2 separate regions of the Homo sapiens genome follow, and region 2 is linked to region 1. Evidence: fine-mapped expression QTL. A gene starts in region 1. The other region holds a variant in brackets. All regions are shown on one strand. Distances are from middle to middle.

Region 1 (8,000 bases):
GTATTTTTAGTAGAGACGGGGTTTCTCCATGTTGGTCAGGCTGGTCTCGAACTCCTGACCTCAAGTGATCCGCCCTCCTCGGCCTCCCAAAGTGCTGGGATTACAGGCGGGAGCCACCACGCCCTGCCAGATCACAGCTTTGAAAGCGAGCCTAACAGCACCCCCTCCCGGCTGTTTAGAGACAACCAAGTCCCCACAAACACCAATGCTTCTGCATTTCTCCCAGTCTCACTAACAACCAGTCAACTCCCCACAGGTGAATCATAGAGCTAGAGCACTCCAAGGAGCACCTGAGTGGGTTGCCCAGTTGGGACCTTCCCCTTATCCAATCCATACTCTGGAACCCGAGCCAATTGTTCTAATTACTTCCTCTCCTGACATGCCATCCGGTTTGTACTTCTGTCCAAGCACCCCACAGCTGCACAGGTCGACTCAGGATGCGTTCTGCTCCTTTGTAAAGATTCATTAAAGCCTCAGCCCCTGATTTTCCCCAATGTGGCAGTTCACGTGTATAGCGACATCACCCACTCCGACAAGGGGACCATGAAGGCTGCAGCACGGGGTTACTCAAGTCCAATGGGGCCCATGATGTCACCTTCTGTTAAAATACAGCACTAATCTTGTTACTTCTACAACTATTCCAACAGCATCCACCCTGGCTGCCGCCTGCACCCCCTTCTCTCTTAAGAGAGAAACAATAAGGTTTAATTTCCCTTTCCAATTTACCTTGAAATGAAAACTGACTTCAGCCAATATGTACTGCCAACAAATGATCCAGGCTGGCTCCTGGGAAAACAAGACTATCTCTAATATCTCTAAGCCCTCCCTCTCCTCCCCCATCCCGTACTCATTCACATACCCACTCATTTTTACAGTCCCACAATTAATTTTAAACACATTCTCTTATTAGTTCTGCCTTACCATTAGAACACTGTGTAATGAGTTTCCTTCTATTTTATGTTTTGCTAACACAAGGCTAACATTTCAAAAGAAGGGGAACTCATTTACACCATGAAATTAGCAAAGCAAACCACTTTTTCAATTCTCTCCAATATACCAGAAGTATCTCCACAGACAAACACTGCATGCAGAAACGAAGCTGCATGGTCCATGACAAAATTGGGCTACACAATATTGAGCAAACCTAAGGTTTTGTGATTTCAGTACCATCTTAAATGGTATTCTTGCTGACAATCTGATTTTTATCTGATGCAGCCACCACCTCCAAGGGGTCCTGAACTGAAAGGTGGGAAATTCCAATTCCATAACAACCCATATATAACATTCCAGATATCAGTCAAATGTCTGAGACCAAAAAGAGCAGACCTATTTGCTGTGAACAATGAACCTCCTTAAGTTTTTTTTTTCTCTTCTCTTTGCAGGCATTGGATAAACTGCCAGCACAGGAGCAGAGAGTTAAATATTCTGAAGTGTCTTTAAACAAAACTAACAACGGGAAAGACGATGACAAGGAAATCACAGTCATCCACTCAGTGGAGCTCATACATCTTTTGTGCCTTGAAAAAGGTTTGTCAAATTCAGGACCATAATTTAGGAACGAAATGATCATCATACCCTTGGTCTCAGGAAGTTTGTATAGGGCCCTGCACTACCTTCATGAAGAAATTCTTCTTTCCTTTGGGGCCAATACCACTCAGAAACAAATAGCTATGAACTGGCTTTTTAAAAACCTCCAGACACCAGCCTGGCCAACGTAATGAAACTCCGTCTCTACTAAAAATAAAAAAAATTAGCGGGCGTGGTGGCAGGCGCCTGTAATCCCACCTACTTGGGAGACTGAAGCAGGAGAATCACTTGAACCCGGGAGGCGGAGGTTGCAGTGAGCCGAGATCGCGCCACTGCACTCCAGCCCAGGCGACAGTGCAAGACTCCGTTGTCAAAAAAAAAAACACAAAAAACAAAAAACCTCCAGATGGGCCGGGTGCGGTGGCTCACGTCTGTAATCCCAGCACTTTGGGAGGCCGAGGCGGGCGAAATACGAGGTCAAGAGATTGAGACCATCCTGGCCAACATGGTGAAACCCCTTCTTTACTAAAAATACAAAAATTAGCTGGGCATGGTGGCGCGTGCCTGTAGTCCCAGCTACTCGGGAGACTGAGGCAGGAGAATCAGTTGAACCCAGGAGGTGGAGGTTGCAGTGAGCCGAGATCGCACCACTGCACTCCATCCTGGCAACAGAGTGAGACTCCGTCTCAAAAAAAAAAAAAGAAAGTTTCAGTTGTAACTGTCCTTAAAAACACTGGGCTGGCCCAGTGGCTCACGCCTGTAATCCAACACTTTGGGAAGCTGAGGCGGGCAGAACACTTGAGGCCAGGAGTTCAAGAACAGCCTGGCCAACAAGGCAAAACTTCGTCTCTACTAAAAATACAAAAATTAGCTGGGCATGGTGGCACAGGCCTGTACTCCCAGCTACTCGGGAGACTGAGGCATGAGAATTGCTGGAACCCAGGAGGCGGAGTCTGCAATGAGCCAAGATCACACCACTGCACTCCAGCCTGGGCGACAGAGCAAGACCCTGTCTCAAAAAACAAACAAATAAACACTGGAACAAATACAAAAACCTAGACACCAAGTAGTAATTTCTAGCAACCACTCTTCTCCATTAGATTCCTCCCCACAGATACCACTCCTCAAAAGAAAAAGCTCAGTTCTGCCTCTGGAGAAGCAGCAGGAAGTTCCTAACTTTAGTTCTCTGATCTGGGAGATGGATCTGTACTTCATCCAAATAAGGCTAGAGTCAGTGACCATAGCTAGTTACATAACTTAGTGTTAACTACATTTTCTGGGCCCTTTCAACCACATCTGAAGTTTCCTTTACTTTCTTCACCTGTACCAGCACCAGTAGCTCTGGTGAGTACCCGATTGTTTGCTGTTTACAAAGTAGATTCATCGTAAAGCTTTCTAATATAGTAACAATGCAAGGCTTTAGTCTCACCATTTATTTTCTCTCCCATTTAAACAACTTCAAGAGACAGGTTAAGAAACAAATCAGGTGATAAAAGTAGATGGAACTACTGAGACTACCGTCCCTTCTTACTCAATCTTGAGCCTTTAGTGCCAGATGGCAGAAAGCAATTCAAAAAGCTCTCGCTCCAATTATAAATATCACAGGTACTAAACAGAGGAAGCTCCCAGTTCTGACCAAGCTCTGTGTGATCTCAACCAAGCAGTTATGCTCCATCTTTTTGTCCATCTCTAATCGTACGCCTTTCACTTGGAAGGTAAGTAACAAAGGCGACCACAATCTACCGCCAAGTCTCCCGTGTCCACGTAAAATACTCGCCATTGCCCCCAGTCTTAGCCATTTAAGTAAATGTCCCCAGAGTCTTTTACTACGGCCACTCTTTCTCCATTCTCAACAAACTAGGACCGAAAGGTCCACATGGTCCTTCTTTCTTTCCGATTAAGCTTGGGGGGTAGGAAGTGAAAGATACACTTTGAAGGTAAACTGAAAAGCCGGGTTTCCTTTCTTGGATCCCGAGCAAGCCCTTGCCTTAATCCCGGGTGGTAAGAGAGTCCCTCCCTAGGATGTAAAGCGATGCCACCATCCCGAGTGCCACTACTGACGCTCAAGCCCACGCCCCCTCACAGGAGAGCAGCACCCACTCCCCAGGCCCCGCCCACGCCCTCTCACCTGAGAACAGCACCAGCTCCCCACAGCGACACCGCCCGCGCCCCACCATATAGCCAGATCACGGCTTCTCCTTCCGGGTGAGTCGCCGGTGCCCCGGTGCACGACGGGAGACGCCCCAATCCCGGGTGCCCGGGACGCCCCGCCCCTACAGGCCCGGGCTCTGAGTGGGATTCCCGCTTCCGAATAGCGCGGCTCCGCTGGCCAAGGCCCCGGACTGGAGTCGGGATCCCCCCTCCACTCACTTGGGACGCCGGAGAGTGCACGCAGGTGCCGGGTGAGGGACGGCGAATGGATATCCAATCCGGGGCCGCGTTCCGCCCACTGTCAGGGGAAGCCAATCAGCGGCCAGGGGGCGTCAGCGACGGGCAGCCAGTGGGTCCCGGGAGCAGAGGGGTGTAAGGGGGTTGTTACTCTTGTTCTCGCTATGCGAGGGATAGTCTGCAGTGTGGGAGGTTCGGGGCTTTAGGAAGCCCACATCCCTGGATCCTCACTAAGTCCCGAGAGCCACCATTTGAACCTCGTAGTTTGCTGTTCCCCAGCGGAGCTATCAAGGGGACTCCGATTCAGATTCGTAAAGCCACGGACCGATTGTCAGAGTGAAAGTCAGACTCGAGAGGGTCCGGCGACTCAGATTGCTCACACCGAAACAAACTCGAAGCAATATCATGCAGCTAGGGAGCAAGAGAAAGCCGTTCAATGTGTTGGTGGTCTTTTAACAACTTATTTAAAGATAATTTCAGCAAGCCTAGCGCGGTGGCTCACGCCTGTAATCCCAATACTATTAGGGAGGCCGAGGCGGGAGGATCGCTTGAGGCCAGGCTTGAGACACGCCCTACCAACTTAGGGAGACCCTCGCCTCTGCAAAATATTTTAAAAATTAGCCGGGCATGGTGACACGCGCCTGTAGTCCCAGCTACTCGGGAGGCTGAGACAGGAGGATGGCTTGAACCCAGGGGTTCGAGGCTGCAGTGAGCCCTGATCACTGCAGAGCAAGACCCTGTCTGAAAAAAAGAGAGAGAGCTAAAAGGAAGAAAAGAGAGGAAAGAAAAGAAAGGGGCCGGGCACAGTGCCTCACGCCTGTACTTCCACCACTTTGGGAGGCGGAGGCGGGTGGATTACCTGAGGTCAGGAGTTCGAGACCAGCCTGGCCAACATGGTGAAACCCCGTCTCCACTAAAACTACAAAAATTAGCTGGGCGTGGTCATGGGCACCTGTAATCCCAGCTATTCAGGAGACTGACACAGGGGGATTGCTTGAACCCAGGAATCGGAGGTTGCAGTGAGACAAGATCGCGCCATTACACTCCAGCCTGGGAGACTCCATTGTAAAAAATAAATAAATAAAAAGGAAGATAGCTGGGTTCTCCTATGTGCTTCCCCTTTCTCTGTTGTGCTCTGTTGTTTTGGTACATTAAGAAAATTCAGCCTTATATAGCTATGTAGTTGAGAAAAGGAAGAGTATTTTTAGCCTTCTCAAACAATTCTGAATACTCTTCTTTGATACTACCCAAATTCAACAAATGGTAACTTTTCTTTGCTTTTTTGAGACAGGGTCCTGCTCTGTTGCCCAGGCTGGAGTGCAGTGGCAGGATCACAGCTCACTGCAGCCTCAACCTCCAGGGCTCAAGCCATCCTCCCTCCTCAGCCCTTGGAGCTGCTGGGACCGCAGGCGTGTGCCACCATACTCGGTTAATTTTTAAAATTTTTATACAGATAATTTTTTAAGTTTTTAAAATTTTATACAACATAGAGTCTCCCTATGTTGCCGAGACTGGAAGTGTTTATTTATTTATTTTTAAGTACACACCACCTTGGAGATGGAGTCATTTCTTAAAGGTTAAGTGTGATAGGGAGTCAAGCCATTTAGAAAATACTGGTACAGAGTTATGCAGATCAGCCAATGTTGATGCATTTATTCAATGTAAAAAAAAATCACATTTATTAAATTCATCACTGATCTCATCAGGAAAGTCTCAAGAAACTGCCTACTGACTAGCTGGGATTACAGGCACGCGCCACCATGCCCAGCTAATTTTTGTATTTTTAGTAGAGATGGGGTTTCACCATATTGGTCAGGCTGGTCTTGAACTCCTGACCTCATGATCCACCCGCCTTGGCTTCCCAAAGTGCTGGGATTACAGGCATGAGCCACCGTGCCTAGCCTCACATGTCTTAATATTAAGACAGCCTCAACCTCCTGGGCTCAAGTGATCCTGCCACCCAAGCCTCCTAAGTAGCTGGGACCACAGGTGTGTGCCACCATGCCCGACTAATTTTTTATTATTATTTGTATAGATGAGGTCTCACTATATTGCCCAGCCTGGTCTTGAACTCTCAAGAGATTGAGACCATCTGGTGGTGTGTGATTGTAATTCCAGCTAGTCGGGAGACTGAGGCAGGAGAATCACTTAAACCCGGGAGGCAGAGGCTTCAGTGAGCCAAGATCATGCCACTGCACTCCAGCCTAGTGACAAAGTGAGACTCCGTCTCAAAAAAAAAAAAAAAAAAAAAAAAGAATGGTATACAGGACAAAGGCAGTGATGGCCCTCTCCACCTTGAAACACACATATAAGAGCCAGAATTTACTAACACAATAAATATGATACATCTGAAACTGTTGCCCTGTAATGTACAGTTTAGGAAAATGATGACATTTAAATAGAGACCTCAGGGAACATGATGGCTGAACTTCAATATTAGAAGAAACATATGAAAGAAAGATAAGGCTTACTGTGTGGCTACAGATGCCAGAATTAGGGAAAATAGGTGGCATCTCCATGGGGAGCAGAATTCAGCTCAATACAAGGAATTAGGGATGGCAGCATTTTATGTAGACAGAAATATGGTTTGGGTGTTAGATAGAAATGAGATTAAATCAATCAAGAATTTATGGCCAGGCATGGTGGCTCACATCTGTAATCCCAGCACTTTGGGAGGCCGAGACAGGTCAAGGCCTGCTTGAGCCCAGGCGTTCCAGACCAACCTGGACAATGTGACAAGACTCTGGCTCTACAAAATAGAAAAAATTAGCTGAGTAAGGTGTGGCTCAAAGCTACTCAGGAGGCTGAGGGGGAAAGATGACTTGGGCCTGGGAAGTTGAGACTACAGTGAACCGTGATTGCACTACTGCACTTCAGCCTAGGAGAGAGAGTAACATCCTGTCTCAAAAAAAAAAAAAAAAAAAAATAGGCCGGGTGTGGTGGCTCACACTTGTAACGCCAGCACTTTGGGAGGCTGCAACGGGGGGATCACAAGGTTAGGAGTTCAAGACCAGCCTGAAAACACAGTGAAAACCCGTCTCTACTAAAAATACAAAAATTAAGGCTGGGTGCGGTGGCTCACACCTGTAATCCCAGCACTTTGGTAGGCGGAGGCAGTGGGACCACTTGAGGTCAGGAGTTCAAGACCAGTCTGGCCAACATGGTGAAACCTCCCTCTACTAAAATTACAAAAATTAGCCAGGCACGGTGGCGGGCGACTGTAAACCCAACTACTCAGGAGACTGAGGCTGGATAATTGCTTGAACCCGGGAGGTGGAGGTTGCAGTGAGCCGAGATCTCACCACTGCCCTCCAGCCTGGGTGACAGAGCAAGACTCAGTCTCGGGAAACAAAAAAATTAGCTGGGCATGGTGGTGGGCACCTGTAATCCCAGCTACTCGGGAGACCAAGGCTGGATAATTGCTTGAACCTGGGAGGTGGAGGTTGCAGTGAACCGGATCATGCCACTGCACTCCAGCCTGGGTGACAGAGTTAGACTCCGTCTCAAAAAATAATAATAATAATAAATAAATAAAATAAAATAAAAAATAAACCAGAAGTGGTGGCTCACGCCTGTAATCTTAGCACTTTGGGCGGGTGGATGCCTGAACTCAGGAGTTCAAGACCAGCCTGGGCAACATGGTGAAACCCCCGTCTCTACTAAAATACAAAAAAATTAGCTGTGCATGGTGGCATGCACTTGTAATCCCAGTTACTTGGGAGGCTGAGGCAGGAGAAGTGCATGAACCCGGGAGGCGGAGGTTGCAGTGAGCCGTGATCTTGCCATTGCACTCCAGCCTGGGCGACAGTGCAAGACTCCACCTCAGGGAAAAAAAACAAAAAAAGCACTCATTAATAGTAGCTAATTATCATTACAACTAATTTTCTCATCATCATCAGTCAAAAACAGTACACTACAGGAGGAAGTGAGGAGATGCTTGCTTCTCACTTGCTTCTTCCTAGAAACCCAGCCCAAATGTTTCAGGAAGAATTGCTCTCTTTGTGTCCGGAGTTGATTCCTTCCGGTGGGTTTGTGGTCTCCCTGACTTAAACAATGAAGCCGCGGACCTTCATGGTGTTAAAAAC
Region 2 (8,362 bases), 64 kb after region 1:
GAAGAGCCCATTATTTATAGGTGAGTCATTAGTCCCTGTACAACTAAGGACAAGGCCAACTGATAACTCAGTAAATAATCGAGTCCATTTTGTGCTTGCGAGTTAGGGGCTTAATTTGGGGTGGTTTGCAGATTAAGTACTTTCACTGCATATAATAAACGTACACCAGCAAACCACTCATGGAATTCTTAAAAAAACTTCTGAGCTAGTTTACCAGTTTCAAAGACTAATTCAGAGAGCATGTTTTACCTATTCTAGGCTGGACTGGAACTCCTGGACTCAAGCGATCTTTCCATTTATCAGGGACTACTGACGCGTGTCTCCCAATAAATACCTGAGTATAAACAACATGAGGACTAGAATTTTGTGCGTTAACTGTTATAACTTAGTAGACACTCAAATACTGAGTACTTGAAGGGGGACTCAAGCAGGCAGGCCTCTGATTTTCCTGTTAAAAGCAGAAATTAACCACACCTTGGAGGATGTACAGTTTTGAAGGATATGGCATGTTAACAATAAAATAGGAGACCATTCAGTCCCCGAAGTAGTGAGACAATGAAGATAAAGACTGGTATTGTATAAGAAAGGAGGAATATTTAGGTGTGGCCATCAACTCTAAAAATAAATAAGGTTGAGAAGGAAGTATTTTAAACATAGAACTGGGCCCGGCGCAGTGGCTCACAGTAGCACCTTGGGAGGCCGAGGCGGGAGGATTGCTTGACCAGCCTGGGCAGCATAGTGAGACCCCCGTCGCTACAAAAAAACAAGCTGGGCTTGGTGCCACACATCTATAGTCCCAACTACTCAGGAGGCTGAGGTGGGAGGATTTCTTGAGCTGGGAGATTGAGGCTGCAGTGAGCTATGATGGTGCCAGTCTGGGCAACAGTGAGATGCTTCCTCAACAAAACAAAACATAAAATTGAGAGATATAAAGGCTCAACTACAGTGTTTAACTACAAGACAATTTTGAGAAGGTGAAAAGAGCATACTAAAGTTGGTCTTTTTTTGACAGAAAAATACAGAACAATTTTCAGTCCTAACAGTTCAAACTAAAACTGGACAATCGTTTATCTGTGGAGTTTCCTGCTTAGCCATTTCACAAAGGTGGGCAGAAAAAGGGAAAGAGTTGCAAGGGCCGAAGAGAGTAAAGGTGTAGAGACAAACTCAGTCGCAACAGCAGGCCTAGGCCTGGCAGGGTGTGGGCGCCCAGGATATTTGATGCTCCATGGAAGGGAGTGGAGACAGAAAGACTGTCTTCCATTCTGTCTAGAGTTCCAGATCAAGTCTGAGCAGGTGCAAGCTTTCCCAGAACCTGCTGATTAACCTTGTAAAACCCAGGGTGTGTCCTTCTTCACCCAGGAAGCCACCCCCTCCTTTCCCCCAACACTCTCCCCCTCCCTTTGCCTGGGACAGCTGTTAATAGGACAGTTACCCAAGAAGCAAAAGAAGGATCCCATGCTGATGTGTCATCAGTCCCGGTATATCCATTAAATCAGACTGAGAAGACCACTGGAAAAAGTGAGCGCATGCATGTGGCTCCCTAAGGGAAAGGCTGGCAGCCATTGTAAAACTAGGCCTTGCCCCTGCGACTCCAGGCTGGGCAGGAGAGAGAAGAAGGCAGTGGAAGCCGAGAAGAGGGTTAGGTCTAAAGCACACGGATTTGGGGCCAGCTAACTATAAAACATACACGGAAATCCCCACCCCCACCCCAGGAATAGCAGTGTAGTGTCTACCGACCCAGCTTCCCTGGTAGGAAAAGCTGCTGCTGCCGCCAACAGCCACATCCATCCTGCAGTCATCCCTGGAGGATGACACATGCCAGGAATCCTCAGAGAAGGGGCTGTGGGAGGGCAGGCTGGCTGGGGCTCTGATTTCTTCTGGAACAGTGAAATTGCTTTTTCCCTAAAAGGGAAACCCAGGCTTTCTGCCATTCTGGTTGTCCATTATCTTTCCTCTAAAAATGTCTCTAAGGCCAGGCACAGTGGCTCACACCTGTAACCCCAGCACTTCGAGAGGCCCAGGTGGGCAGATCACTTGAGCCAGGAGTTTGAGACCAGCCTGGCCAACATAGTGAAAACCCATCTCTACAAAAAAAATACAAAAATTAGCCAGGCGTGGTGGTTCATGCCTGTAGTCCTAGCTAGTGGGGAGGCTGAGGTGGAAAGATCACCCGATCCTGGGGAGGTTGAGGGTGCAGTAAGCTGTGATTGCGCCATTGCACTCCAGTCTGGGCAACAGAGTAAGACCCTGTCTCAAAAAAAATAATAAAAAGAAAAACATGTCTTTAAGTTTTGCTAATCCATATAAGTATTTCTTACTCTGTAACCTCATCTAATCCAGGGGAATAGATTAGATAGATGATTGCCTGAGATTTCCTTACAGTCCTGAGAGATGGTAGGAATACATCATGTCAATACTAAATGTTAGCATGTTTTGCAAAGAAATCAATTAGTTTTCTGGCAAATCCGGACATATGGCCCTCTCTCTTATATGGTAAACATCATCAGCAAGCTTGTTACCATTAAACCACCAAAAAGTAAAGCTCTCCTGCAAGCCAGCCTCTTTCCTATGCACCACTACCACACTCTTAGAAGATTGCTTCTCAATCCTGGCTGCATATTAGAATCACCCAGGTGGGTAGCTCGTAAGAAATACCAATGCCCAGGTCCCACCCCACACCAATTAAAACAGCTGCCCAGAGCAGAATTGGACATCAGTATTTTGTAAAAGCTCTTCAGGTGATTCTTATGCACAGCCAGAGTAGAGAATCACTAGGTTGGAGCAAGAATCCACATTGGGGTAAAAAAAAAAAAAAAAAAAAAAAAGCAAAAGATTGTGGTAATACGGGAACACAGACTAGAATGATTATCTGACTTTTTTTTTTGAGATGGAGTCGCTCTGTGGTCCAGGCTGGAGTGCAGTGACACCATCTCAGCTCACTGCAACCTCTGCCTCCCCAGTTCAAGCGATTCTCCTGCTTCAGCCTCCTGAGTGGCTGGTATTAAAGGTGCACACCACCACGCTTGGCTAATTTTTGTATTTTTAGTAGAGACAGGGTTTTGCCATGTTGGCCAGGCTGGTCTCAAACTCCTGACCTCAAGTGATCTGCCCACCTCAGCCTCCCAAAGTGCTGGGATTACAGGCGTGAGCCACTGCACCCGGCCCGTTTGACTTTTAGGGTGTGCTCATTCTCAACCCTAAAATGTTCTTTCTTCACCTCTACAATGAAAATGCCTCATTGTTCATTAGTGTCTTAGTGTAACATTTTTTGAAGCTGAGTTCAACTGTCCTGTATGTCTTGCTATGTTGTCTCAAACAATACCAGGTAGTGTTCTTCATATAGCTCTGTGTGACATGTCACACTCAAGGAGCTGCCATTAAGAGGTAGGAGGAGTGGATGTTTTGGACTCATAGGTGGGTTCGAAAATCTGGCTCTGTTTCTTACTAGTTGGGCCATCCCGAGCTAAATGGAGATAACAATGTACATATTCATAAATCTTAAAAATCAGGTCATGTGTATAAAGCCATTCATGCCTGGAGGAAGAGCTGAGTATAAGGCCCTGTCTTGAATAATCCTCTCTCCACCCACCCTACAACTTTATCTCAGAGAAAGCCAAAGGCGATGAAGAAATGAGAGCTGTCCTTAGAATGGTCTACTAGAAACCCATCCTACAGACAGAGCATGGAAGCTTTAGTTTTCTCTAGAGGATGCCACCAGTACACACTTCCACGCCTCATATTCCACACACACCTCCCCCTCTTGACATTAAGCAGGAGGGATAGAGAGAGGCTGGTACCCAAGGGAGCTGTTTCTTCTCGTCACATAAGAACAGATGCTGAAATCCTAGGACAGACAGCACAGAAATGTGGCAGCAGGAGGGTGACTCAGAGGAAATGAAATGGTCTCCCCTTCAAGCTATACCAAGGCCCAGAGGAGAACCTGCTTTGAATCACCTGCCTCCTGGGACTCCAAAGGGCAGGGACCAATTCTGAGTGCACTACTTCACAGGTTCCAGCTGGGTAGGGATGTGCACAGCCCACCTCTCCATCCTACTGTGCCTACCCGAAGGGAGTAGAGGGCAGAGAAACATGAAGGCTGCATTCTTTTTGAACCCAACTTGGCTTCCTCGAGCTGGGGAGGCTCTCCTGCCGAGTCTGCTGCTGCACGTGCATGCTTCTCATGTGCTGCCAGCCTTAAACTGGAAAGTCCTCTTAGGGCCATGCTCTGTGGAAGACACTGTCCCAATACTGGACACACATAGCTC[A/G]CATGTTTATGTGAAACTGCATTAAAGGTGCACTTCAGGATGTGTGGGGAAGCGGTTGTCATGGAGAGAAAGAAGTTCTGGGGTCTCTGTTGAAGGAGTTTGGGGAGGGGTTATCATTGGGGAGAATCTTGTCCTTGAAAAGTTGAACTTGGCTCTGAATTTACTTATTCACCACTAAACTAAGATGTAAAGAGATTTTATGGGCCAGGCACGGTGGCTTACGCCTATAATCCCAGCACTTTGGGAGGCCAAGGTGGGCAGATCACTTAAGGTCAGGAGTTGGAGAACAACCTGGCTAACATGGTGAAACCCCGTCTCTACTAAAAATACAAAAATTAGCCGGGCATGGTGGCACGCACCTGTAATCCCTGCTACTTGGGAGGCTGAGGCAGGAGAATTGCTTGAACCCGGGAGGCAGAGGTTGCAGTGAGCCGAGATCGTGCTACTGCACTCCAGCCTGGGCGACAGAGTGAGACTCCATTTCAAAAAAAAGAAAAGATGTAAAGAGATTTTAAGAAGAGGAACAACAAGGCCAGGCGCGGTGGTTCACGCCTGTAATCCCAGCACTTTGGGAGGCCAAGGCAGGCGGATCACCTGAGGTCAGGAGTTCAAGACCAGCCAAACAACATAGTGAAACCCTGTCTCTACTAAAAATAAAAAAAATTAGCTGGGTGTGGTGGCGCATACCTGTAATCCCAGCTACTCAGGAGACTGAGACAGGAGAATCGCCTGAACCTGGGAGGCGGAGATTGCAGTGAGCCAATATCACCCCATTGCACTCCAGCCTGGGCAACAAGAGTGAAACTCCTTCTCAAAAAAAAGAAAAAAAGAAAAAGAAAAAGCAACAACAGTGATAGATGTGGGGGTGATGAGAACTTTGTGGTTCCTAAGCTTCCTTCCCCAGCCTTCTCTCATTCCTATCCCCTTGGCCCCTCTCCAGTGCCTTCCCATCCCTAACGTGTATAACTGACTCCTTCCCCACCTCCCCTATGGAGCCAGCCCCCTAAGTCCCCTATCTTCCCAGGTCTTCCTCTGTCCCTTCTGGAGGCTGCTGGTCTTTCATAGTGGGTACCATAGCCAAACAGAGGCTGAGAAATGCTCCTGGAGGCTTTTTGGTGCTGTCCTTGTAAATATGAGCCAAAAAAAAAAAAAAAATGGACTAGCTCACAGAAATATTAAGACATCAAAATAACCAAATCAGTATTTTTTAGAAATAACATACCCAGCCAGCATGACCATTGACATAACTTCTGATGATCTGGAATCCGAAGAAATAAAATGCCCAAATGCTGGGTCTTTTCCCTGGCTGCTGTTATCAAATAGTGTCATTATGTTCCCTATTATAACTGATAGCCTGCAAGAAAGGTTCAGATGTGCCTTCTAAGTCATCATATAGGGAGGGTCAGTAGATGCTTCCTCAGATGTCTGCATGGCCTGCTTCCTCCTTTCCTTTAGCTCTTTGTTCAAATGTCACCTTGTTAAAGGTTTTCTCAGAGGACTATGAAAATGGCTTTCTGGCTTGCCTGTCCCTTACCCCTCACATTCCACATCCCATTTCTGCTCTATTTTTCTTTGCAGCACTTATCCCCAACTCATATAATATCTACTTTTCCCATTTATTTGTGTATTATATCTTGCACAGAAACGCACGCATGTACATACACAAACACTTGATTGTAAGTTCCATGAGAGCAAAATTTTTCTTTTGTCTACTATTGTGTCCCAGTGGCTAGAAAAATATCTGGTACATACTAAGCACTCAATAAATATTTGTACAGCACATAAAATATGTTGTCTTTTTTTTTTTTTTTTTTTTGGAGATAGAGTCTTGCTCTGTTGCTGAGGCTGCAGTGGTGTGATCTTGGCTCACTACAGCCTCTGCCTCCTGGGTGCAAATGATTCTCCTGCCTTCACCTCCCAAGTAGCTGGGACTACAGGCACTCGCCACCATGCCTGGCTGATTTTTGTGTGTTTTTAGTAGAATCAGGGTTTCACCATGTTGGCCAGGCTGGTCTCGAACTCCTGGTCTCAAGTGATCTGCCCGCCTTGGCCTCTCAAAGTGCTGGGATTACAGGTATGAGCCACCACACCCAGCCAATATGGTATCATTGATAGGTACATTTTAATTATTATTAGTTAAAATTTGGTATTTGTGAATATTTATACATGATCTCCCTCATCCTGAATTCCTTTATTCATTTACTTCACAAATGCTTATTAAATATCTGTCATCGGCCAGGTGCAGTGGCTCATGCCTGTAATCCCAGCACTTTGGGAGGCCGAGGCAAGCAGATCACAAGGTCAAGAGATCGAGACCATCCTGGCCAACATGGTGAAACCCTGTCTCTACTAAAAATACAAAAATTAGCTGGGCGTGGTGGTGTGCACCTGTAGTCCCAACTACTCGGGAGGCTGAGGCAGGAGAATCACTGGAACCCGTGAGGCGGAGGTTGCAGTGAGCCGAGATCTCGCCACTGCACTCCAGCCTGGTGACGGAGCAAGACTCCGTCTCAAAAAAAAAAAAAAAAAATCTGTCACCAAGCCTTGTAAGAAACACTAGGGATTCCACAGTGAACAAGACAAACATAATTGGCCAGGTGAGGTGGGTCACACCTGTAATCTCAGGGCTTTGGGAGGCCGAGGCAGGAGGAGGGCTTGATCCCAGGAGTTCAAGACCTGCCTGGACAACACAGCAAGACCCTGCCTTTAAAAAAAATAATAATAAATAACCAGGCATGGTGGCACGTGTGTATCGTCCCACCTACTCAGGAGACTGAGACAGGAGAATGGCTTGATCCTGGGAGTTGTTTGTGTGTGTGTGTGTGTGTGGGTGGGTGGGTGGGTAGCAGGTTCTCGCTCTCTTGGCCAGGCTGGAGTGCTGTAGTGCGGTCTCGGGTCACTGCAACCTCCACCTCCCAGGTTCAAGTGATTCTCCTGCCTCAGCCTCCCGAGTAGCTGGGATTACAGGCACCTGCCACCACCCCCGGCTAATTTTTTTGTATTTTTAGTAGAGATGGGGTTTCACCATGTTGGCCAGGCTGGTCTCAAACTCCTGACCTCGTGATCCGCCTGTCTCGGCCTTCCAAAGAGCTGGAATTACAGGCGTGAGCCACCGTGCCCGGCCGACACTGGGAATTTGAGGCTGCGGTGAACTATGATCACACCACTGTACTCCAGCCTGGGTGATAGAGCAAGACCCTGTCTCAAAACAAAAAAACAAACAAACAAAAAGTCACATTCATTGGTTCTTGCAGGGCTCAAAGTCTGGGCGGGGAGAAGGAACACTTATAAACAAACTAGTAAAGGCTGGGAATGGTGGTTCACGCCTGTATCCCAACACTTTGGGAGGCTGAGGTGGGAGGATCACTTGAGCCTAGGCGTTCAAGACCAGCCTGGGCAACATAGTGAGACCTTGATCATGATCACCCTCCTCCCCCTCCTCCTCCTCTTCCTTTCTTTTTCTCTTCTTCTTCTTCTTCTTTTTTTTTTTTTTGAAACAGATTCTCACTCCCATTGCCCAGGCTGGAGCACAGTGGCATGATCATGGCTCTGCAGCCTTGAACCCCCAGACTCGGGTGATTCTCCCACCTCAGCCTTCTGAGTAGCTGGGACTACAGGTCACACCACCCTACCTGGCTAATTTCTTTGTAGTTTTAGTAGAGACTAGATCTTACCATGTTGCCCAGGCTGGTCTGGAACTCCTGGGCTCAAGCCTTCTGCCCACCTCAGCCTCCCAAAGTGCTGGGATTACAGATGTGAGCCATTGAGCCCAGACTTGAGACCTTGTTTCTACAAAAATAAAAAAAATAAAAAAATAAAAAATTACCTGGGAGTGGTTGCATGCACCAGTGGTCCCAGCTACTCGGGAGACTGAGATGGGAGGATTGCCTGAGCCCAGGAGGTTGAGGCTGCAGTGAGCCCAGATCGAGTCACTGCACTCCAGCCTGGGCAACAGAGTGAGACCGTGTCTCAAACAAGCAATATTAGTAAAAATAATATTTAGAGATTGAAAAAAGTGCAATGAAAGAAAGAAATAGGAACTGAGAGAATGTGACAGGAGAGACCTATCAAGTCAGATATGGTGGCTGTCAGGAGGA

The links. PIP is the estimated chance that this variant, and not a neighbour inherited with it, causes the effect.
Region 2: its variant is fine-mapped to the expression of SNX11 in whole blood (INTERVAL, PIP above 0.99).

Annotation. Positions count from the first base shown.
Region 1 is chr17:48,103,494-48,111,493 of GRCh38, reverse strand. It overlaps SNX11 (sorting nexin 11), which reads right to left and starts at 3,728. Exons shown (of 7, transcript NM_013323.3): 1 at 3,656-3,728. RefSeq lists silencers at 1,855-2,028, 3,563-3,722.
Region 2 is chr17:48,038,867-48,047,228 of GRCh38, reverse strand. NFE2L1-DT (NFE2L1 divergent transcript) reads left to right here. Exons shown (of 2, transcript NR_170231.1): 2 at 259-348. It also overlaps a transcript of COPZ2 not described here. Among named protein-coding and RNA genes, the nearest start is that of NFE2L1-DT, 5.0 kb to the left of the region's middle. RefSeq lists enhancers at 1-98, 8,266-8,315. The variant A/G (reference allele first, on the strand shown) is at 4,266.